Homo sapiens: one gene and its partner. The protein of the gene in region 1 purifies or fractionates together with the protein of each later gene. This does not show direct contact. Each region holds a gene or a part of one and is shown in the gene's direction. Other genes may lie near its edges. The genes, in order: STAP1 and SULT1A1.

Region 1 (10,663 bases):
TCCCTCTGTGCCCAAGCTGTCTTATCTGTTTTACTCTCTGCTCTTTCTGGCTGCTTGTAGTTAGAAGAGAAGTGATTTCCTTGAAATGCATGAGGCTAAAAAGGGAGCTGGAACTTAAAGTGGCAGTATTTGAGATGATGGTGCTCCTGCTCTGTCAGTCACTACCAATAAGAATTCTCCAATGAGTCTGGGTATGGTGGCTCATGTTTAATTCCAGCACTGTGGGAGGCTAGGATAGGCAAATTTCTTGAGGCCGGGAGTTGGAGACCAGCCTGGCCAATATGGTGAAACCCCATCTCTACTAAAAATACAAAAATTAGCAAGGCCATCATTGTTACAGAAGTGATATTAGTAGCTCTGTCAGAACAGTTTAATTTGCTAACCCTTATAACTGTCAGTACAAAGAGTTGCATCTGGGATGATAAGAGCTTTTCCTATTACGTATTTTCAAACTATTTTTGTAGTGGAAAATGTCACTTTTGTTACTGAGGAGTAGTTTTTGGATGCCAGGTAGATACGGGAAACTGGTTTTCATACTAGGTAACTCACAGAATAATGGTAGCTTATTCTATACTTATACAGTAGTGGTGGCACACTACTGTAATCCCAGCTACTCAGGTGGCTGAGGCATGAGACTCGCTTGAACTCGGGAGGCGGAGGTTACAGTGAGCCAAGATGGTGCCACTGCACTCCAGCCTGGAGGACACAGCTAGACTCTGTCTCAAAAAAAAAAAAAAAAAAAAAAAAAAAAAAAGAATCCTCTCAGAGCAGAAAGCCTCCTTACTGCTTCCGGCTCCAGAGCCACACCTTACCTAAAATGATATGATGATATGCACAAGCAAACTGATGTCTGTGACTTGACTATCAACACCCATGAAGCTAGTGATCAGACATTGGGACTTCTGATAACTTTGCCACAGAAAAATTAGATGCCTACAGGCCATACATGCCTTTTTATTGGTTAGAAAAGCCAAAGGTTGCCTGGTGCAGTGGCTCACATCTGTTAATTCCAGCTACTCAGAAGGCTGAGGCAGGACGATTGCTTAAGCCCAGGAGTTTGAGACCAGCCTGGGCAACATAGCCAGACCTCCTCTCAATGAAGTTTAAAAAACAAACAAACAAACAAACAAAAACAAAGGCAGCATAAGAATGAACCCCGCCTCCCTTCTGCCTTGCCAATCATGTTGAATGCTTTTCAATCTTAGCTGCAAAGAAGTCTGAAAAATGTAGATTTTATCTTTTTAGCCTCTGCAATAAACAAAAGCACACTAGAAGGGTTTGGAATGACGGTAAGCACCAATCCACCTTATTCCCTAAGGAAGGCATGAAGGATGAGAAATAAAAGAGAAAACATAGACTTAACCTTTGTATACATTGAGTTTGAAATGGTTAAAACTGAATTCATTATCCCTCTACCACCCAAACTATCTCCCCACTCTGAATTTCTAGTTTCTATTAAAGCTACCATTATTCTGTGAGTTACCTAGTGTGAAAACCAGTGTCCTGTATCTACCTGGCATCCAAAAACTATTTCTCAGTAACAAAAGTGATATTTTCCACTGTAAAAATAGTTTGAAAATACATAACTAGGAAAAGTTTTTATCATCCCAGATGCAACTCTTTGTACTGAAAATTATAAGGGTTAGCAAATTAAACTGTTCTGACAGAGCTACTAATATCACTTCTGTAACAATGATTGCCCACCTTTTTTTTCTGTTTCAAAAGACTTAAGGGAAACATTTTCTGAGTAAAAATGGCTCACTGTATCAGTAATTCTCAGGCAAAGGAGTAGGAAGCTCCCTCCATATTGTATGTCTGATAATCTCTGGAGTTGTGGTATTACAATGTGCATTTTCTCCACTGAAAATGCTGCATGTCTGGGTGTGGTGGCTAATGCCTGTAAATCCCAGCGCTTTGGGAGGCCAAGGCGGACGGATCATTTAAGGTAAGGAGTTCAAGACCAGCCTGACCAACATGGTGAAATCTCATATCTACTAAAAATACAAAAAATTAGCCAGGTGTGGTGGTGAGCACCTGTAGTCCCAGCTACTCAGGAGGCTGAGGCGGGAGAATGGCATGAGCCTGGGAGGCAGAGGTGGAAATGAGCTGAGATCATGCCACTGCACTCCAGTCTGGGCGACATAGCAAGACTCAGTCTCAGAAAAAGAAAAGAAAAGAAAAGAAAAAGAAAATGTGGCTTAACTCTATCAATAGTAATAAAAAATTTACTCATAATAAAGATTGTATTGGATTCATACCAGCCATTGATAAGCTATAAGTATTTCACACAATGGTTAAAATTAAAGTTGTATTCTTCAGGTATGAGTTGCAAAAATAAATGTATTCAATTAAAATATCTTAGAAATATACTACCGCAAATTATAATGCATATGGCAATAAATCATCAGTAAGTATTAAGCAAAACAAAGGTCAGAAATGTGGAAGTACTGGAGCAGGGTTGGTTGATTTGATTGATTCAGTACTAATAAATGGATAGAAAAGTATTTTAGAGATCCTCAATTATTGTAAAAAATGTGGATTTTTACTCAGATGACCTTATAACATAGAGGAGTCAATACAGCACTGAGATTTTGGTTTATATGAGTTAAATCTTATACTTCACCCAAAGTTGTTAAGTTATATTTGCCATAAAACCTGATTTGTAACAATCTTCTGTGACACAGATGCTACTGATGGCTGTAATGTTGGGCTCCAATAGTTTAATAGTAACATGATTGTTCTACAAGGCAACACAAGAATCATATGTCAACCAATGGTCACATATATCAGAAAAAAGGAAACTCCTGTCACAATGGAAGCTAATAATTCTCCAAACTAGAATCATATTTTTTAGCTAGAAGCTATTCAGTAAATATATGATATTGCAATCTACTTATAACCAACCCCTACTTCAACACAATCTTTCCTTTGGAAAAACTGTTTCTTGTTGATACTCAATGTATACAAATAACTACAACAGGACAAATACTATAAGAAAGAAATCGTGCAAAGTGCTTTGGGAAAGCAGAAATGAGAGTAATAACTTTTTTTTTTGTGGGGGTGAAGAAAGCTTCAGGAAATTAGGAGATGTTCAGAATTAAGGATAGATTCAGCCTGGGTCTTGAAGGACGAGTAGGACATTACCATATAAACAAAGAGAAGGAGGGGCATCTAAGCAGAGTACAGTGACTGAAAAGGTATGAGGAGACAGGGAAGATCATAGGGTATTCAGGCAACTGAGACTAAATGAAATTACCAGAGCAAAGGGTATTTTGAGGAGTTATTATTTAAAAGGGGCCCTGCTATAAAGGACCAACGTGCCATGCTTGAGCCCATTGTTGGTATTCAATAAGTATTTAGTGTTCAATAAAAAATATTTAAAAAGGAATCTCAAAAGCAATGAGAATCCTTTAAAGTCTTTTCAGTAGGGGAATATCTTGATTAGGTTGAATATTAAATGAATCAAAGAAGAAAAAGAGTGGAAACTAGGAGACTACTTAAAAGCCTTTTGCAGCTCTTCAAACAATAAGTCATGTAGTCCATCGCCTCCTTGTATAGGTGAGGAAGCTATGATACCAGAGAAGTCAAGTGGTTTGTTCAAGGTCTCAAGAGCTGGTTAGTAGCAAAATTAGTTTATGCCCTATGTCCAAACATATTTTCTACTATATTTCCTTACCTACAAATTTATTCTTCACTGCCTAAGACTTGAGGTATCTGTAAGAGGATTTCCATTGTAATGGTGCAGTGGTGCAATGACACTAGTCATTGCAGACAGGACTAACTTGTTAATATTGTTTAAGCAAGATTTTTGCATTTTGTAGTCTTTTTCAGGGAGATATAATTTGATTCTTGGTATATTAAGAATGAATTTGACGAACAAATCAGCAGACCAAAGTAACTTACTGTGTCTGATTAGCTGTTTTTAAATTGTTGCTTATATTTTAAAGGCAAAAAAAAAACTAAGTGCTTATTTAACAACAACAAAAAATCCCCTTTACATTTTTTTAGAGGTATTATTTTCTCTCACCTATGAAACTTTCTGACCATAAAGTCAGTGCGTAATCACTGATGATTCCCAGCATTCTTTCTTTATCCTTGCTTCTTTTCATTTTTCAATTCTTAATCCCTCCTTTCACTTCCCCCCTGTATTACAACAACTAACAGCTGCCAAGAAAGTGGATTAGGTCATATATTCAATCAGGAGGTTTTCCTGTTATTCAAGTCACTTTCTTAGTATACCGAAACTAAAAAATAGTTATGGTTTTTGCCTCAAAAAATTCAGTTGGACTTATATTTTATTATTTGAAGGTTGGGTAGCAAGAAGCAGGTCTAAACTTACAAAAGCAAAGCAGTCATTTTGGATCTTCAACTCCCTATTTCTGTCTTGAGCTGTTTTCATTTTGATAATACATCTGAACACTCTTCTCTAACTTACTGATAATCAGTCCGTATTGTTCTACCTCACTTTGTAGACAATTTGTCATCCCATATCTACAGCTGCAGGATCAGTGGGACCCATACTGGTGGAGAAAACCATGCAGTCTCTCCATTAGGAAAGGAGAATCAGACTGAAGACTCCTGACTTGCTTTGATTTCTAATAATAGGCTGGTCTCACTGGGCCCAGGCTGTTCTAAATCTAGAGTAGTTCTGAAATACTGAGTGTGAAATAGGCAATGGTAGAAATTCTTAGGACCCCTGTAAGACAAATCAAAATTCCTTCTAGTATTCTTTTCTCCCATCATTTCCTGCACTGTGCTACGCCAAATCCAATCTCTTAAGGACCATTTCCTACATGCAACCATTGAGTGCACTTTGGCCCCAGTATAGCTTTATAAATCTCACTAGATAACTGTGGGAAGTCCATCCATGAATCATAGTATCAATGGTCTGCAGCTCAGAAAGCACAAAAGAACAAAATAAAAGTTTGAAAACTTACAGCTTTCTCTGCCAGATATTTTTTTGCCAAATATCTTAGACTCCTTTGTGTTGCTGTAACAGAATGCCACAGACTGGTAATTTATAATGAACAGAAATGTATTTCGCTCATGGTTCTGGAGTCTGGAAGTCAAAGAACATGGCCAGCATCTGATGAGGACCTTCATGCAGCATCATTCCATGGCAGAAGATAGAAGAGCAAGAGAGGATGATAGCATGTGAGAAAGTGCCAAACTTGATTTTATAAAAAACCCACTTCCAGGCCAGGTGCAATGGCTCACACATGTAATCCCAGCACTTTGGGAGGCCACAGCAGGAGAATCGCTTGAGCCCAAGAGTTTGAGACCAACCTGGGCAACATAGGGAGATACTGTCTATACAAAAAATGAAAAAGTTAGCTAGGAGTGGTGGCGCGTGCCTTGTAGTCCCAGCTACTTAGGAGGCTGATGTGTGAGGATTGTTTGAGCCTGAGAGGTCAAGGCTGCAGTGAGCTGTGATTGCACCAGTGTATTCCAGCCTGGGCAACAGAGCAAGACCCTGCCTCTGAAAAAAGAGAAAGAAACCCACTCCCACAGCATTAATTAATTCATTCATTCATGAGGGCAGAGGCCTCATGACTTAATCACCTTCTAAAAGTCCCATTTCTAAACACTGTTGCATTGGGGATTAAGTTTCTAACACATAAGTTTTGGAGGACACATTCAAAACATAGCACTAAATATTCATTGGGAACTCATGTACTTGGAATATCTACTGGCAAAAAAAAAAAAAAAAGAAAGAAAGAAAAAAGAAAAAAATTCCATATTCCGTGTTCCCATAATTGTGGTTTATATTTAGTGAAGCATCAAATGAGCATGAGATACAACTATTTTTTTTATTTACACAAAACTTGACCCTAAAATATTTAACCAACAGAAGTAGTACTAATAAAATTATTCTATGAAGTAATTTTTAATGAAGCTGAGTTTATTCAAGTCATGTCTTCTGCAAATAAAAATGGACACCAATAAACAAAAACAAAGATAGAAAGAATAACTGTGTTCTTGATATCTCCCCTAAAGTTCACAATCTCTACACCTGTTTCTTTCATCTTCTGGTGATGTTAATCTTCTGTTTATTTTGCGCTTTAAATCTAAGCACATGTGGATTACCCAGAGATTGCCCTCTGAAAGTCAGTCTACACCTGTTCTTTCTTACCTCACAAAAAGTAATGGAAAAAAAAGTGTGTGTGTGTGTGTGTGCGTCTGTGTGTGTGTGTGTCCTGTTGGTGGTAGTGTTGGTGGTTAAAAAGCAATTTGGGACTTCCTCTTTGAACAGTTGCCTTTTCCTCTCACAGAAGGAAGATTTCATTTTGTTTGAGACGAGAAACCAAACCACACACCAAAGAGAGGGGTATGATGGCTAAGAAGCCCCCAAAACCAGCCCCTCGCAGGATCTTCCAGGAAAGGTTAAAGATTACTGCTCTACCTTTGTACTTTGAAGGTTTTTTATTAATCAAGCGGTCAGGATACCGGGTGAGTCTATAGATGATAATGTTAAACCTAAGACTTCTGTTTTAATTTAATATTTATTTCATGGTGATGTGATGTGTTAAGACCTCCTTGTTTCTGTTGAAATTAAATCATCTTCTCTTCTTTGAGCTCAGAAAAATGATTCCAATTTTTCATAATTTAAATACAATGTCTGGCTTAAACCTGTATGTATACACATATATAATATGTATAATAACAGAGGTTGTAATATTAAGGCACTAATATAAAAAAGTCAATAAGCTAAATTTCCAAAGAATTTATTTAAATATCACAAAAGATTTTGGCTTGGGAGATAAAATGTTTCTTGTATTTTCTCCACAATTTATTGCTATGCTTCAATGATGACATGTACCATTAAGATAAAATGATATCATGATTAAAATTAAACCTGCTCCTGTTCTGAGTCATTTGAAGTTTATAATGATCAAATTATTAAAAATGGCTTTTGTAAAAATTGTTAAAATGACAAAGTTCATACTGTTTAACATTATATATAGTTATGTGTTCTAAAATACTATTCAAGATAGTGACTTTTAATTTTTGGGGTACTACTGTGGGTATTAAGTACACTAAGCTACATAAATACCTTTGCTCTAAGAAAATCCATGAAGCATTCTGTATTTTTAAATGTAATAATTAAAACTTATAGTTAGTTAAAATCATTACTTTTAAAACAGTAATTATGGATGACTTGAAATTAATTAGAGAAATAAGCCCAAAATTGCCTGTTATTAAATAAAAAAATCATTAAGTTAGGTCAAATTTTATGAAATTGTATACTGACTAAAACTAGAAAAATTTTAAGGTTTTCAGAAATTCCATCAGAAATGTTTAATGATGCTAAAATATATTTTCTGAGGATTTATGAATACTTGTGGAAAAATTATATATATGAAAAATCTATAATAGCATATTCACATTTCTTACATATATAATCAGATCATTTACTATTTGAGAGTAAAGACATGGTAATTTGTATTCTGTTATGGATGTTAAACATGCATAAATAATTACCTTTCAGTTATATTAGAATTTTTTAGATTGATCCTATATGCTTTTAATGTAAATTCAATCTTGTCACCACAGGTAAGCCACATAGTCACACTTTGCCAGGAAAGGGAAGTTGAGAAAAAAAAATTCTAATTAGTAATTTAAATCAGGTTGTTCATTGAATGTTTTCCAAGGTATTTATAATAACTGTTTATGATAGCAGTTTTTTTTAAATGCTTAAAGAAGACATGTCATTGGTATGGTTAGCAGAAAGAATAAGAATTTTAGAGTGTCCTTTATCTGATGGTTTTGCCACTTATAGCTTGTGATCTTGTGCAAGTTACTCAATCTCCTTGAGACTGTTTCAACTATAAGATAGAGAGTATACTACTTGCTACTTGCCTCCTAAGGTACATTCTAGGATTCAGTAGGTGTTCAATCAATTTATTCACTCAACATTTATTGTGTGCCTCCTATGCACCAAGCATCACTCATTTCTGGAGAATATGGAAAAAAACACAAAGATTTTATTTTCAAGAGGCTTAATATAGTAGGAATGATGTCTTCCTTACCAAATTTCTACTCTTTACCTTCTCTTAGAAAGCATTCTTTGAAGCAGAATGAATACCTATAGGCATAAATATTTCCAATGAAATTAACTTGTGTTTCTATTTGAATTTATAGTAAAGTATCTTTGTGTGTGTGGGTGTGTGTCTGTGTGTGTGTGTGTGTGTGTGACAGTGTCTCCTCTGTTGCCCAAGCTGGAGTGCAATGGTGCAATCACTAGTCATGCAGCCTTGACATCCCCGGCTCCGGTGATTCTCCTGCCTCAGCCTCCTGAGTAGCTGGGACTACAAGCGCATACCACACCCGGCTAACGTTTGTATTGTTTATAGAGACAGGGTTTCATCACGTTGTTCAGGTTGGTCTCAAACTCCTGGGCTCAAGCAACCTGCCCACCTTGGCCTCCCAATGTGCTAGAATTACAGGCATGGGCCTCTGAGTTAGACCACTAAGTACCTTTTACTTGTATGTCAGGGAGAAGAGAGCAAGAGGATGACAATAATACCTACTTATGTGGTGGTTTCAGGGATTAAAGGGATAGCATATGTAAAACACCTGGCTCACACTAAAGGTTAGATTCATTCTCTTACCCTTTCATCACTTATCATACTCTTATTCAGGTACTAAAATTAGTTTGAGGTCTGCAAGTAATATGACTCCAAGGAGAGTGAGCATGGTGATAATTAGAGTACTTGAAAATAGAAGCTATGAGAAAAATCTAAGCAAAATAAGTGGAATTTCCAAGCAATTGGCAGCAAAGTGCCAGGGAATCTTTGAACAGAAGGTGAGCCAAAGGTATATAGCCAAGTAATCTTTGGAGCTGATTGGCTAGAGGAAGGTGAGAGGCTCTGCAGAATGTAAAGTTGGGTCTCTGCCAAAGTCATTCAGAACATTTAAACTAGAAAAAATATAACTGAAGAGTAACCTGGTCTATAAAGGCATGAAATGCTGAGAGGTGCTTCTTAGCTATTTTTTGTGGGGCACTTTTAAGTATTTAAAGAGCTTTTCCCCAGGAAAATGTAACAACGTATACCATTTTGCATGCAATTCTAGAAGGTTTCTAAATCTGAGGTCAAGAACCCATGAAAAACACATAATCTTTATGGAAAAGATAATGTGGGAAGATTTATTTAAGCCACAGCACTAGGATTCTGAATTAACCAGGAAGATGTGTTTATTATCAAAGCTGTTAAATGCCACAGTGGAATACCATTGGCATCGCAGTTCTTACAAATGGGAAAATTTCTCATTTTTTCTGGGACCGTTTGAAAATAAGAGAGAGTGTGGGTGGGCCGGGAGCGGTGGCTCATGCATGTAATCCCAGCACTCTGGGAGGCCCAGGTGGGCGGATCACGAGGTCAGGAAATGGAGACCAACCTGTTCAACATGGCGAAACCCCGTCTCTACTAAAAATACAAAAATTAGCAGGGCATGGTGGCACGCACCTGTGGTCCCAGCTACTCGGGAGGCTGAGGCAGGAGAATCACTTGAACCTGGGAGTCAGAGGTTGCAGTGATCCGAGATCGCGCCACTGCACTCCAGCCTGGCAATAGAGCGAGACTCTGTCAAAAAAAAAAAAAAAAAAAAAAAGAAAGAAAGAGAGAAAGAAAGAAAAGAAAAAGAAAGAAAATAAGAGATAGTTTGGGCAACGTCTCATAATTTCTTCAATCTGTGATGTGCTAAAGTAAAAAAAAAAAACAGTGTGTGTGGGCCGGGCCCGGTCCCAGCTATTCGGAAGGCTGAGGCAGGAGAATCGCTTGAATCTGGGAGGCGGAGGTTGCAGTGAGTCAAGATCGTGCCACTGCACTCCAGCCTGGGTGACAGAGCGAAACTCCGTCTCAAAAAAAAAGGAAATTTTTTAGGGCTGTCTAAGTTGTGCTCACACACAGTTCTCTATGGCAGTAATCTCCAAATTTTAAAATAACACACTCCTTTCAGGAAAACATTTTGAGCACAGATCCCTAATATAAGAATATTAATTCAGCCGGGCGTGGTGGCTCACGCCTGTAATCCCAGCACTTTGGGAGGCCGAGGCGGGCGGATCACGAGGTCAGAAGATTGAGACCATCCTGGCTAACAAGGTGAAACCCTGTCTCTACTAAAAAAAAAAAAAAAAAAAAATTAGCCGGGCGAGGTGGTGGGCGCCTGTAGTCCCAACTACTCAGGAGGCTGAAGCAGGAGAATGGCGTGAACCCAGGAGGCGGAGCTTGCAGGGAGCGGAGATTGCGCCATTGCACTCCAACCTGGGCAACAGAGGGAGACTCCATCTCAAAAACAACAAAAAAAGAATATTAATTCATTTGGAAATTATAAATATATATATTCCCGTACTATTAATCCATGTAAATTATTTGATATATAAAAAATGAATTAAGAAATATGAAATAAAATATAATTAAATATTCTAAAATTTTCTCTCCCAATGGATCATCTTGCACACCTTTGGAATTTATGCATCCCATTTTGGAGACCACTATACAACATTCTTCCTTAGGTAAATGTACTTTACTTGCGCACAAAAACAAAGAATGAGAGCTTTTTATTGGGGACAGAGGAAGAGAAACTTAACTGGAGCTTGCATTGTAATTCATTTTTGCTAGTTAATTCATTTTTGCTAGTTGTATTAATGAGAAAAGAGCAC
Region 2 (11,550 bases), on another chromosome or scaffold:
TTGAGCTCAGGAATTTGAGACCAGCCTGGGCAATATGACGATGAAACCTCATCTCCACAAATACAAAAATGAGCTGGTCATGGTGGCTCACACCTGTAGTCCCAGCTACTCAGGAGGCTGAGGTGGGAGGATCTCCTGAGCCCAGGAGGTCAAGACTGCAGTAAGCTATGATTGTACCACTGCACTCCAGCCTGGGTAACACAGCGAGACCCTGTCTCAAAATAAAAAATAAAAAATAAAAAAAAAGATCTGGAGTTAGGCACATACTGGGGGACAGGTCATTCCAGGGGCAGAAGAGCTGAGTAGAGTTGACAATGTGTAAAGCACCACGGTATGCCCAGAGGGGAGAAACCACAGGCAGTTTGGTGTTCACAGAGTATTTGTTGAGCAACTTGGAATGAGTTTGGATCCTGGAGACTGTTGAACACCCGGAGCTGAGGATCTTGCACTTCACGGTTAGGTAATTGCAGCAGAGGAAACCAGAGTGGGGGGTTATTGTAGCCAAGTTCACATAAGAAATAATGAAGTACGTCGGGTGTGGTGGCTCATGCCTGTAATCCTAACACTTTGGGAGGGTGAGGCGAGAGGATCCCTTGAGGTTAGGAGTTCGAGACCAGCTTGGGCAACATAGCAAGACCCTGTCTGTATTTAAAAAAATAAAACTGGCCTGGCATGGTGGCTCACACCTGTAATCTCACCACTTTGAGAGGCCGAGGTGAGCAGATCACTTGAGGTCAGGAGTTCGAGACCAGCCAGACCAAAATGGTGAAACCCAGTCTCTACTAAAAATACAAAAAATTAGCCAGGCATGGTGGCGCACGCCTGTAATCCCAGCTACTCAAGAGGCTGAGTCAGGAGAATTGTGGGCGGCAAGCCACCCAGGCACCGAGGCAAGAGACAGAGGACACGATCTGTTCCAGTATAATAAAATATAAAACAAGAATAGTTATACCAGATATAGATCTTAGATATGATTATATATGAATATCATTAATCATTAGTTTGTAGCAATTACTTTTTCTTCCAATATTATAATAACCCTCGCTCAATAATCATAGCCTAGGAAAAACCAGGCCATACACAGATAGGAGCTGAAGGGACATAGTGAGGTGTGACCGGAAGACAGGAGTGCGAGCCTTCTGTTATGCCTGGACAGGGCCACCAGAGGGCTCCTTGGTCTAGCGGTGACACCAGCATCTGGGAAGATGCCCGTTACCAGGCGGATCGTGGTCCAGCGTCTCCCTGTGATGCTGTGCTTCAGTGGTCACACTCCTAGTCCACCTTCATGTTTCATCCTGTACACCTGACTCTGCCTTCTAGATAGCAGTGGTAAATTAGTGAAAATACTAATAGTCCCTGATATGCAGAAATAATGGCATAAGCTGTCTTTCTCTTTGTCTCCTCTCCCTCTCTGCCTCGGCTGCCAGGCAGGGAAGGGCCCCCTGTCCAGTGGACACGTGACCCACGTGACCTTACCTATCATTGGAGGTGACTCACATTCTTTACCCTGACCCTTCAGCCTTGTATCCAATAAATAACAGCGCAGCCCGACGTTCGGGGCCACTACCAGTCTCTGCATATTGGTGGTAGTGGTCACCCGGGCCCAACTGCCTGTGTTGCCCAGGCTTCCTGTGTTGGCCGTGCTGTCACCAAGGTCACAGCATCCTGAGAACATGGTTTTCTCCTTGACTAACAAGGCCTCGGGGTCTGTCTCGGGGTTGGCCTTCCACCGGGTCAGCGGGATGATCCGGCGCAAGCTCACGGTGTGTCTCCTGGTGGTAGAGGGGCTTGTGTCAACCTGTGGCCGGGTGGGGATGCTCCTTCCCAGCTGGTAGGCTGCCCCCAGGCTCCATGCCCTGCCCTGGCCTGGACACTCACGCTTTGCCTTCTTCATCAATGTCATCTACCTCATACCTGTGGACAAAAGGAGGAAAATGCAGGATGCAGCCAGGGGCACAGTCCCTGTAGGGGAGTGTGGAGGACAGGGGCAGGGCAAGGACCCGGTGCTCCCTGCACAGCCGGCCCCGCCCACAGCACGCTCTGTGGAGTTTTTCTCCTGCTGTGCAGATGAGAAGCAGAGTGGCAGCCCAGGCAGGTGCAGTGACCAGAGAGCAGCCCTGGGGCTGTTGGAGGAGCCCCTGGGAGCCTCCATCTCCCGAGTGAGCCCAGCAGGACTGTGACCCGTTCGGCCAGGTGTCCTACAGGGGCTGCTGGGCTCAGCTACAGATGGGCGAGACCGCAGCATAGTGGGCGCCCAGCGGGAAGAACCAGGGAGGGACAAAGTGAGTTTGCAGGTGGTGGAGAGGCTCTCTTCTTGATGTCGGTGCTGAACCAGAAGTGTGTTTAAGGAGAATTTCCTAAAATTCAAAGAGTTCCACGGGAGTCGCGGCTAGGCCGGGGCGCTTCTTCAGCATCTACCTGCTCTACGGCCTGAACCCCCGTCATCAGGGCCACGTTTATATGGGGTTCACTGTCAGCCCTGCTTGTCAGGTCCAGCAGCACAATGGGGGCCACACAAAAGGCAGGGCCCAGGCCTGGCGCGGTGGCTCAAGCCTGTAAACCCAACACATTGGGAGGCCAAAGCGGTTGGATCACTTGAGGTCAGGAGTTCGAGACCAGCCTGACCAACATGGTGAAACCCCGTCTGTAATAGAAATACAAAAATTAGTCGGGCATGGTGGCACGTGCCTGTAATTACAGCTACTCAAAAGGCTGAGGCGGGAGAATTGCTTGAAAGATGGGGCAGGGGGCAGCGGCAGAGGTTGCAGTGAGCCAAATCGGGCCATTGCACTCCTGGTGAGACCGGAAGGGTCTCTGTGCCAGGAGGAAGGCTTCCTGGAGGAGGCGGACCCCGCTGGGCACAAGCCTGATGAGAGGGAAGGGCATGCCTGTGACATGGGTGGGGAGTCCAGGGTGGGGACGGGACTGTCACAGAGGAGGAGCATGACGGGGAGACAGTGCCCTGGGAATCTTGGCGGTGGAACTCCGGGGAGGAGCTGGCTGGGGCGGAGGTGATGATCCAGGATGCGGGCCAGCGTAGGGGTCTTGGTGGGCATGCTGGGGTCGGATGGAGCGCAGGAGAGAGAAGAGGGGGGACAGGTGGGTACCTGGGCTGGAGGCGCGGCCTGAGGTGGGCAGGTGCAGGGGGCGTGACTTCATTTAGGGGCAGGGCCTGGGGCTAGGCTGAAGCCGGCAGTGAGGACCCCGCTCTCGGGTGGAATTGGAGGGGACCCGCGGTTGGGCGCGGCAGGGCTCACAGGGACACCCCCGTTCTCCTCCCCAGGGAGAAAGTGCTCGTCGTGCACGGCTTCCCGCCCGCCGTGGCAACCCTTCGGGTAAGGAAGGAGACCAGGCGGCGGCAGGCGGGCAAGGGCTTGGGGTCCGCCCCCCTGCCTGGAGCCGCCCTAACTCCTCCGTATCCTGCCGCTGTTGGAGTGGGCCTGGAACCCCCTCCATAGGCGCGCCTCCTACTCCCGCTGCACCCCGACCTCCGCCGGGACCTCTATGCGCCGCGCCGCACGGGCGATGGCCTTCGGGCCTCCCCGGCCCCAGGGCACCGCGCAGGTCCCTTTGCTGGCACCAAGCCCGAGCCTGAGCCGGACCCGGGGCCCAAGAGGCCTGTGCGCCCTGCGAGCCCTTGAGCTCCAGGGGAGGTCCGCCCCAGGCAGGGCGGCTCATCCCCCAGACCACTTCGGATCCAGCTGTTTGTTGAGGAGCCAGGAAACGCCCTGACACTTTTGCGGCCCTGTCCCCGTCTCTAAGATGGGGATGATAGTATTTCTGGCCATTCCTGAGCACAGCAGGACCTGCCTTTTCCCTTTGACTGGAAGGTTCTTCTCTACACCTATCTTGATAACCTGCCACCTCCACAGGGAGGTCTTCTCTATCTCCCGATTTAAAATTGCAGCTCTGAGAAGCCGGGCATGGTGGCATATGCCTGTAGTCCCAGCTACGGGGGGAGGCTGAGGTGGGAGGATCGCTTGGTCCCAGGAGTTGGAGGCTGCAGTGAGCTCTGATCGCTCCACTGCACTATAGCCTGGGCAAAAGAGCAAGAAACTGTCTCTAAAAATATAAAATAAAATTGCACCTCTTGTGTACTTCCCCGTCTGCTTCTTTACCTGAATACTTACTATCTCACCGGCTAGGTGCTTTATGACTCTCGTTAGTCTCTCCCACCCCAACCTTTGCACTACATTGCCCGAGGGCAGCTCTTGTCACTGCTGTAGAACAAAGTCCTGCACAGAGACGATAGCCAAGAAATAGTTAATAAAATAATGGAAAACGGGTGCCTTCTACTGAGCACCCGCTAATAGTGAGTGAGTAGAGGACTTGCCCTGGGGACATTCAGTGACCTGCTGGGTGTTGCTGAGCTGTGAGGAAGTTCAGGTCTGGCTGCAGTGGTGAGGCTGTGACTCAATCAATCACTGCTGATGCTCCCAGGACCTGCACCAGCTTAGTCCCAGGGGCAAGGATTTTAAACCCCCACCTCCATTTCCTCATCTGTAAGATGCAAATAACAGTCACCTCTGCCTCACGGGATGGAGCTGTGTAATGCCCGGAACAGTGCCTGCTGCATAGAGGGGTTGCTGCCAGCTGCCTCTCCCTCCTTGTCTCTTACCTGCCTGCTGCCTGGGACAGGATGAAGCGGGGCCCTTGTGTTGCCCCAACCCTGGCTGTTGGCTAAGAGCCCACGTGATCTGCCTGTGAGAGGAGTTCCTTCCGGAAGAACCAGGGCAGCTTCTGCCCCTAGAGGGCCAATGCCCTAGCTGAGTGCAGTCCCCCGGCCCCAGCCTGGTCCAGCTTTGGGAAGAGGGTGCCCAGTTGTGCAATCCAGGCCGGGGCAGCCGTGTCCTGATCTTGGTATTCAGGGCTGAGCCTGGAGGGGGCTTGTGATGCCTGACTCTGTCTCTCTCTCTGGCCCCATGCCTTGGTAGCTGTGAGGCGTCACTGCTTTGGGTGACCTGATCTGGCTGTGATGGATGAGCACGGGGGAAATAGTGGAAGACTCGGAATTAGAAGACGTGAGTGGGCTTTGGCCCCAGCCTCCCTACCCCACTCCCTGTCCTGGGCTGCCTGTGACCAACCTTGTTTCTGCAGGCACACTGGATAGCCCTGCTGGAGCTCAGTGTCCCTAATCCCCTCCAGATACTGGTGGCCTAGGGGAGGTCATCAAAGACCGGTGGGACATCGACCTCAGCCCGTTTCCACGCTTTTTTTTGTTTTGTTTTGTTTTTTTGAGACCGAGTTTCACTCTTGTTGCCCAGGCTGGAGTGCAATGGCGTGATCTTGGCTCACCGCAACCTCCGCCTCCCGGGTTCAAGCGATTCTCCTGCCTCAGCCTCCCAAGTAGCTGGGATTACAGGCGTGTGCCACCAGGCTTGACTAATTTTCTATTTTTAGTAGAGACAAGGTTTCTCCATGTTGGTCAGGCTGGTCTCAAACTCCCGACTTCAGGTGGTCTGCCTGCCTCGGCCTCCCAAAGTGCTGGGATTACAGGAGTGAGCCACCGTGCCAGGCCTTCTCCAGGCTCTTGGCACCTTAGCCAGAAACAATTTAAGGACAAGTGCAAAAGTCATGAATGTAGGCAGATTTCCTGCAGAGTAAAGGGACTCACTGAAGAAGAGGAACGTGGGGGTCCTCAAGAGAGTGTCTCATGCCCTACAAGGTGTGGGGCTGACCTTTATGGGCTTCTTCAACTAAAGAGGGGTATATTCATGAAGAGTCCAGGAAAAGGTAAAGATTTCTCAAGACCGTGGTGCCACAATTTACACCCAAATACAGGTGTTCCTGGAGCCGTCTTGGCACTGGTGGGTGTACGGTTTCATATGTTACTGATCATACAATGAGATCCTAGGTGAAACCTACATCAAATACAGCGCCATGTTGTGTCTGGTTGGTCGTAGCCAGCTTGGTCCTCATCCTATTTTTCAGGGACTTATTGGCCCTTAGCGCATGCAGCTATTTCAAGTTTCCTTCTTCTCCTCATGTGAAACTGCTGCCTGGGATTTTGTATTCACTTGCTACCACTCTATTAATCTCACATTCTCGCCTCTTTTCTGTGTCACCCCGTGTGGGTCCGACAGGTTGTTACTAGAGTGCAATACAAAGTCTTAGTCAAGGGAACCTCCTGAGGGTTGCTGAGGGCAGGGGTGGAGCTAGTAGCCTGAGGACCTGCCAGTCACGGGGATTCCTCATGGGCACAGAGGAGGGAGGAGGGGTCCATGGCCCTAGCATATGAGAAGCCTCTCCTCTGCCTGGAATTCCCATGCCTCAGCTTCCCCCACACTCCCACCTGTCCGCTTGCCTCTGAACTCACGCATTTCTTGGAAGTCTTGGGAGATTCACCTTTACTCAGATGGTTGTTTACCTGTCTCGTGCACAGCTTGACCTTGGACTTTAAAGTGAGGATAAAGAACGAGGAGGATGGGGGGATGCCCCCCTTCCACGGGGCCCTGTGGCTTCCAAACCTCGGCCTCCTCTGGTCTCTTGTCTGTGGAGCCTCCTTCAAACCCAGGGAAATAAAACCACCTGCCACGGGTTGTGGTTCTTCTAGGATCTTCTATCAATGTTCTCTGAGGTCCCCAGGAGCCATGAAGCTGGGGCTGACTCCCAGGGCAATGGGACTGCAGTGTCCTTGTTCTTTCTTGTTCTATGCATCCATGCTCTGCTCCACCCCTGCCCCTTCACTCTGCCCACACACATCCCTCTAGACTGGCCTTGTGGTCAGAGCCTGGAGTGCATGGGCTGCTGGGGGCCTGTGGGCTGCACTGGGCCAGAACCCCTGGCACCTTCAAGACTGGCCTGGAGCCAGCAGGTAGGTGACCTTTCCAGGGCCTGCCTATCCCAGCTTTCTCCTCCAATCCCTCCCCTCTCTTGCCTGGGTCAATTAGAGAGAGCTTGTCTGTTGGCTGCCTGGCAGGGTGGAGTTCAGGGGCAGGTCAGGAGCCCAGTGACAGCTCGGAAAAAAAAAAAAAAAAAAAAAAAAAACAGAAAAAAAAAACCTACAAAAACAAACCCACCATTGGGCCTTTCCCCTTTCATTCTTCTGTTTTCTACACAGCAAACTCAGTCGTGGCTTTGGAGATCACTTTAAGCTTGTCTCCAGCTGGCACACTAAGGAGGGTAATGGAGAAGCTCCCCCACCCCCAACCCCACCCCTTCCTTCCGGAAGCAAATCTAAGTCCAGCCCCGGCTCCAGATCCCTCCCACAGTGGACCTAGGAAACCCTCAGCTCAGAGAACAACCCTGCATTCCCCACACAACACCCACAATCAGCCACTGCGGGCGAGGAGGGCACGAGGCCAGGTTCCCAAGAGCTCAGGTGAGTGACACAGTGGAACGGCCCAGGGCGCCCTCACCCTGCTCAGCTTGTGGCTCTAACATTCCAGAAGCTGAGGCCTCTGGCATCCCTGCCCTTTCCCCATGGATATCCCATTTCAGACAACCCTGGCCTGCGTGAATCCCCCTCCCTTCCCTTGTTTGTTTGTTTTTTTCCCCGGGGAGGCCAGGTCTTGCTGTCACCCAGGCTGGAGTGCTGTGGGATCCTGGCCACTGCAGCCTTGAATTCCTGGGCTCAAGTGATTCTCTTGCCTCAGCCTCTGGAGTAGCTAGGACTACAGGCCCTCATCATCCTGCCTGGTTAATGTTTAAGAATTTTTTTAAAGATTTTTAGAGATGGGGTCTTGCAATGCTGCACCAGGTTGGTCTCCAACTCCTGGCCTCAGCCTCCCTAGGGTCTGGGATTATAGGTGGGAGCCACCCTGCCTAGGCCTGTGCTTTTGCTGAGTCATCAGAGTTTTGTTCATTCCCACAGCAGCTCTGGCCCCTAGTAGCAGCTCAGTTCCTCAATGGGCCGTGTTTGTCCTGGAGCCCAGATGGACTGTGGCCAGGCAAGTGGATCACAGGCCTGGCTGGCCTGGGCGGTTTCCACATGTGAGGGGCTGAGGGGCTCAAGGAGGGGAGCATCTCCACTGGGTGGAGGCTGGGGGTCCCAGCAGGAAGTGGTGAGACAAAGGGCGCTGGCTGGCAGGGAGACAGCACAGGAAGGTCCTAGAGCTTCCTCAGTGCAGCTGGACTCTCCTGGAGACCTTCACACACCCTGACATCTGGGCCTTGCCCGACGAGGGTGCTTTCACTGGTCTGCACCATGGCCCAGGCCCTGGGATTTTGAACAGCTCCGCAGGTGAATGAAAGGTGAGGCCAGGCTGGGGAACCACCGCATTAGAGCCCGACCTGGTTTTCAGCCCCAGCCCCGCCACTGAGTGGCTTTGTGAGTGCGGGCAAGTCACTCAGCCTCCCTAGGCCTCAGTGACTTCCCTGAAAGCAAGAATTCCACTTTCTTGCTGTTGTGATGGTGGTAAGGGAACGGGCCTGGCTCTGGCCCCTGACGCAGGAACATGGAGCTGATCCAGGACACCTCCCGCCCGCCACTGGAGTACGTGAAGGGGGTCCCGCTCATCAAGTACTTTGCAGAGGCACTGGGGCCCCTGCAGAGCTTCCAGGCCCGGCCTGATGACCTGCTCATCAGCACCTACCCCAAGTCCGGTAAGTGAGGAGGGCCACCCACCCTCTCCCAGGTGGCAGTCCCCACCTTGGCCAGCGAGGTCGTGCCCTCAGCCTGCTCACCTCCCATCTCCCTCCCTCTCCAGGCACTACCTGGGTAAGCCAGATTCTGGACATGATCTACCAGGGTGGTGACCTGGAGAAGTGTCACCGAGCTCCCATCTTCATGCGGGTGCCCTTCCTTGAGTTCAAAGCCCCAGGGATTCCCTCAGGTGTGTGAGTGTGTCCTGGGTGCAAGGGGAGTGGAGGAAGACAGGGCTGGGGCTTCAGCTCACCAGACCTTCCCTGACCCACTGCTCAGGGATGGAGACTCTGAAAGACACACCGGCCCCACGACTCCTGAAGACACACCTGCCCCTGGCTCTGCTCCCCCAGACTCTGTTGGATCAGAAGGTCAAGGTGAGGCAGGGCACAGTGTTTCACATCCATAATCCCAGCACTTTGGGAGGCTGAGGCAGGCAGATCACCTGAGGTTGGGAGTTTGAGAGCACCCTGAGCAACATAGAAGAACCTTGTCTCTACTAAAAATACAAAATTAGCCGGGTGTGGTGGCGGGTGCCTGTAATCCCAGCTACTCCGAAGCCTGAGACAGGAGAATCACTTGAACCCGGGAGAAGGAGGTTGTGGTGAGCCAGAGATCCCACCATTGCATTCCAGCCTGAGCAACAAGAGCAAAACTCACAAAAATAAATAAATAAATAAATATATAAATAAAAATAAAACTGTGGCACCTGTGGTGGCTCACTGCTGTAATGCCAGCACTTTGGGAGGCCAAATTGGGTGGATCACTTGAGCTCAGGAGTTACAGACCAGCCCGGGAAACATGGGGAGTCTCCATCTCTATAAAAATGCAAAATATCAGCAGGGCATGGTGGCATAGCGCTGTAGTTCCAGCTACTGGAAAGTCTGAGGTTGGAGGATTGCTTGAGCCTGGAAGGTCAAGGTTGCAGTGAGTTATTATCACTCCAGTGCACTCCAACTTGGGCGACAGAAAAAAAGAAAGACCACGGTCCTTTTTTTTTTTTTTTTTTTTTTGAGACTCTCTGTCTCAAAAATAAATAAATAAAATAAAATAAAATAAAATAAATCCCACAATAAAAAGAAAAAGCAAAGGTCCAGGTGTGGGGCATGTGAATCCAGGGAAGGAGGCCCTGGCTCAGCCCAGCTTTGGTCCTGTTCTTCTGGGAAAGTCGCCTCACTTCCTCCAGCCTTGTCTCATCTTCTGCGGCGGGGACTGTCTGCCTCTTGCTCTGATGACCAAGAACGTAAGACTCTTCAGTGTAGACCTAAGAAAGCTAGAGGGTGGGTCCTCACAGGCCCACAAAATTTGGTGGCGGTGGGATCACGGCTGGTGGAGCATGCCTTGCTCCAGATTGGGGTGTGACGCATTGATGCAGATTATATTACTATAGAATATGATGGTCTCAGGGACCAGGCAGGACTTTGGCTTCTGAGCAGGGTTCAGCTCCTGACTTGGCCCTACCGGTGCCGTGAGATCTCAAACAAGTCAGCCTCTAAGCCTCAGGTTCCTCCTTTGCCAATCCAAGAGATGAGCTGGCCTGGGACAGGCTGTGTGGTGATGGTGCTGGGGTTGAGTCTTCTGCCCCTGCAGGTGGTCTATGTTGCCCGCAACGCAAAGGATGTGGCAGTTTCCTACTACCACTTCTACCACATGGCCAAGGTGCACCCTGAGCCTGGGACCTGGGACAGCTTCCTGGAGAAGTTCATGGTCGGAGAAGGTGGGTTTGATGGGAGGAAGGAAAGTGTGGAGCTAAGGGGTGGTGGCTACAACGCACAGCAACCCTGTGTTGGCACCCCTTGCCTGCTTCTCCAGTGTCCTACGGATCCTGGTACCAGCACGTGCAGGAGTGGTGGGAGCTGAGCCGCACCCACCCTGTTCTCTACCTCTTCTATGAAGACATGAAGGAGGTGAGACCACGTGCGATGCTTCCCTCCATGTGACTCCTGGGGGCAGGCACCTCACAGGGACCCGCCAAGGCCACCCAGCCCCCTCCCTGGGCAGCCCCCACAGCAGGACCAGATTCCCCATCCTGCCTTCTTGGCCCAGGCCTCCCCACTAAGGCCCCACCTGGCAGCGGGCCCCACACAGCTCTCATCTCTCGCACCTGAGTCAGCTGCATGGGGGGCCACGGATCAGAAACTTAGTCCTATTGCTACTCCCTGCCAAAGGGTGTGCTACCCAGGGCCACAGTCACAGAAGAAGACCATCACGGTCCTCACCCATAGGAGCCAAGCCCAGCTCATGATGGGATCACAGGGCAGACAGCAATTCTTTTTACCCCCGGGACTGGGGCCCTGGGGGTTGAGGAGTTGGCTCTGCAGGGTTTCTAGGAGAAGTGGCCAGATCGCCTCTGAGGTTAGAGAAGGGGACCCCTTTTACTTTTCCTGAATCAGTAATCCGAGCCTCCACTGAGGGGCCCTCTGCTGCTCAGAACCCGAAAAGGGAGATTCAAAAGATCCTGGAGTTTGTGGGGCGCTCCCTGCCAGAGGAGACCGTGGACTTCGTGGTTCAGCACACGTCGTTCAAGGAGATGAAGAAGAACCCTATGACCAACTACACCACCGTCCCCCAGGAGTTCATGGACCACAGCATCTCCCCCTTCATGAGGAAAGGTGGGTGCTGGCCAGCACGGGGGTTTGGGGCGGGTGGGAGCAGCAGCTGCAGCCTCCCCATAGGCACTTGGGGCCTCCCCTGGGATGAGACTCCAGCTTTGCTCCCTGCCTTCCTCCCCCAGGCATGGCTGGGGACTGGAAGACCACCTTCACCGTGGCGCAGAATGAGCGCTTCGATGCGGACTATGCGGAGAAGATGGCAGGCTGCAGCCTCAGCTTCCGCTCTGAGCTGTGAGAGGGGCTCCTGGAGTCACTGCAGAGGGAGTGTGCGAATCAAACCTGACCAAGCGGCTCAAGAATAAAATATGAATTGAGGGCCCGGGACGGTAGGTCATGTCTGTAATCCCAGCAATT

The links.
Region 2: the proteins of STAP1 (region 1) and SULT1A1 purify together in Homo sapiens (affinity purification with mass spectrometry; 3 studies listed by BioGRID and IntAct, with this or other methods). This does not show direct contact.

The regions. Positions count from the first base shown.
Region 1 is NC_000004.12:67,552,480-67,563,142, forward strand, and holds the start of STAP1 (signal-transducing adaptor protein 1), read left to right. Parts: upstream 1-6,247; 5' UTR 6,248-6,330; coding exon 6,331-6,450; intron 6,451-10,663. UniProt on the Homo sapiens protein: In BCR signaling, appears to function as a docking protein acting downstream of TEC and participates in a positive feedback loop by increasing the activity of TEC.
Region 2 is NC_000016.10:28,605,702-28,617,251, reverse strand, and holds the start of SULT1A1 (sulfotransferase 1A1), read left to right. Parts: upstream 1-7,207; 5' UTR 7,208-7,321; exon of another isoform or gene 7,322-8,392; 5' UTR 8,393-8,396; coding exon 8,397-8,544; intron 8,545-8,648; coding exon 8,649-8,774; intron 8,775-8,863; coding exon 8,864-8,961; intron 8,962-10,174; coding exon 10,175-10,301; intron 10,302-10,396; coding exon 10,397-10,491; intron 10,492-10,977; coding exon of another isoform or gene 10,978-10,980; exon of another isoform or gene 10,981-10,997; coding exon of another isoform or gene 10,998-11,015; coding exon 11,016-11,196; intron 11,197-11,318; coding exon 11,319-11,431; 3' UTR 11,432-11,550. UniProt on the Homo sapiens protein: Sulfotransferase that utilizes 3'-phospho-5'-adenylyl sulfate (PAPS) as sulfonate donor to catalyze the sulfate conjugation of a wide variety of acceptor molecules bearing a hydroxyl or an amine group.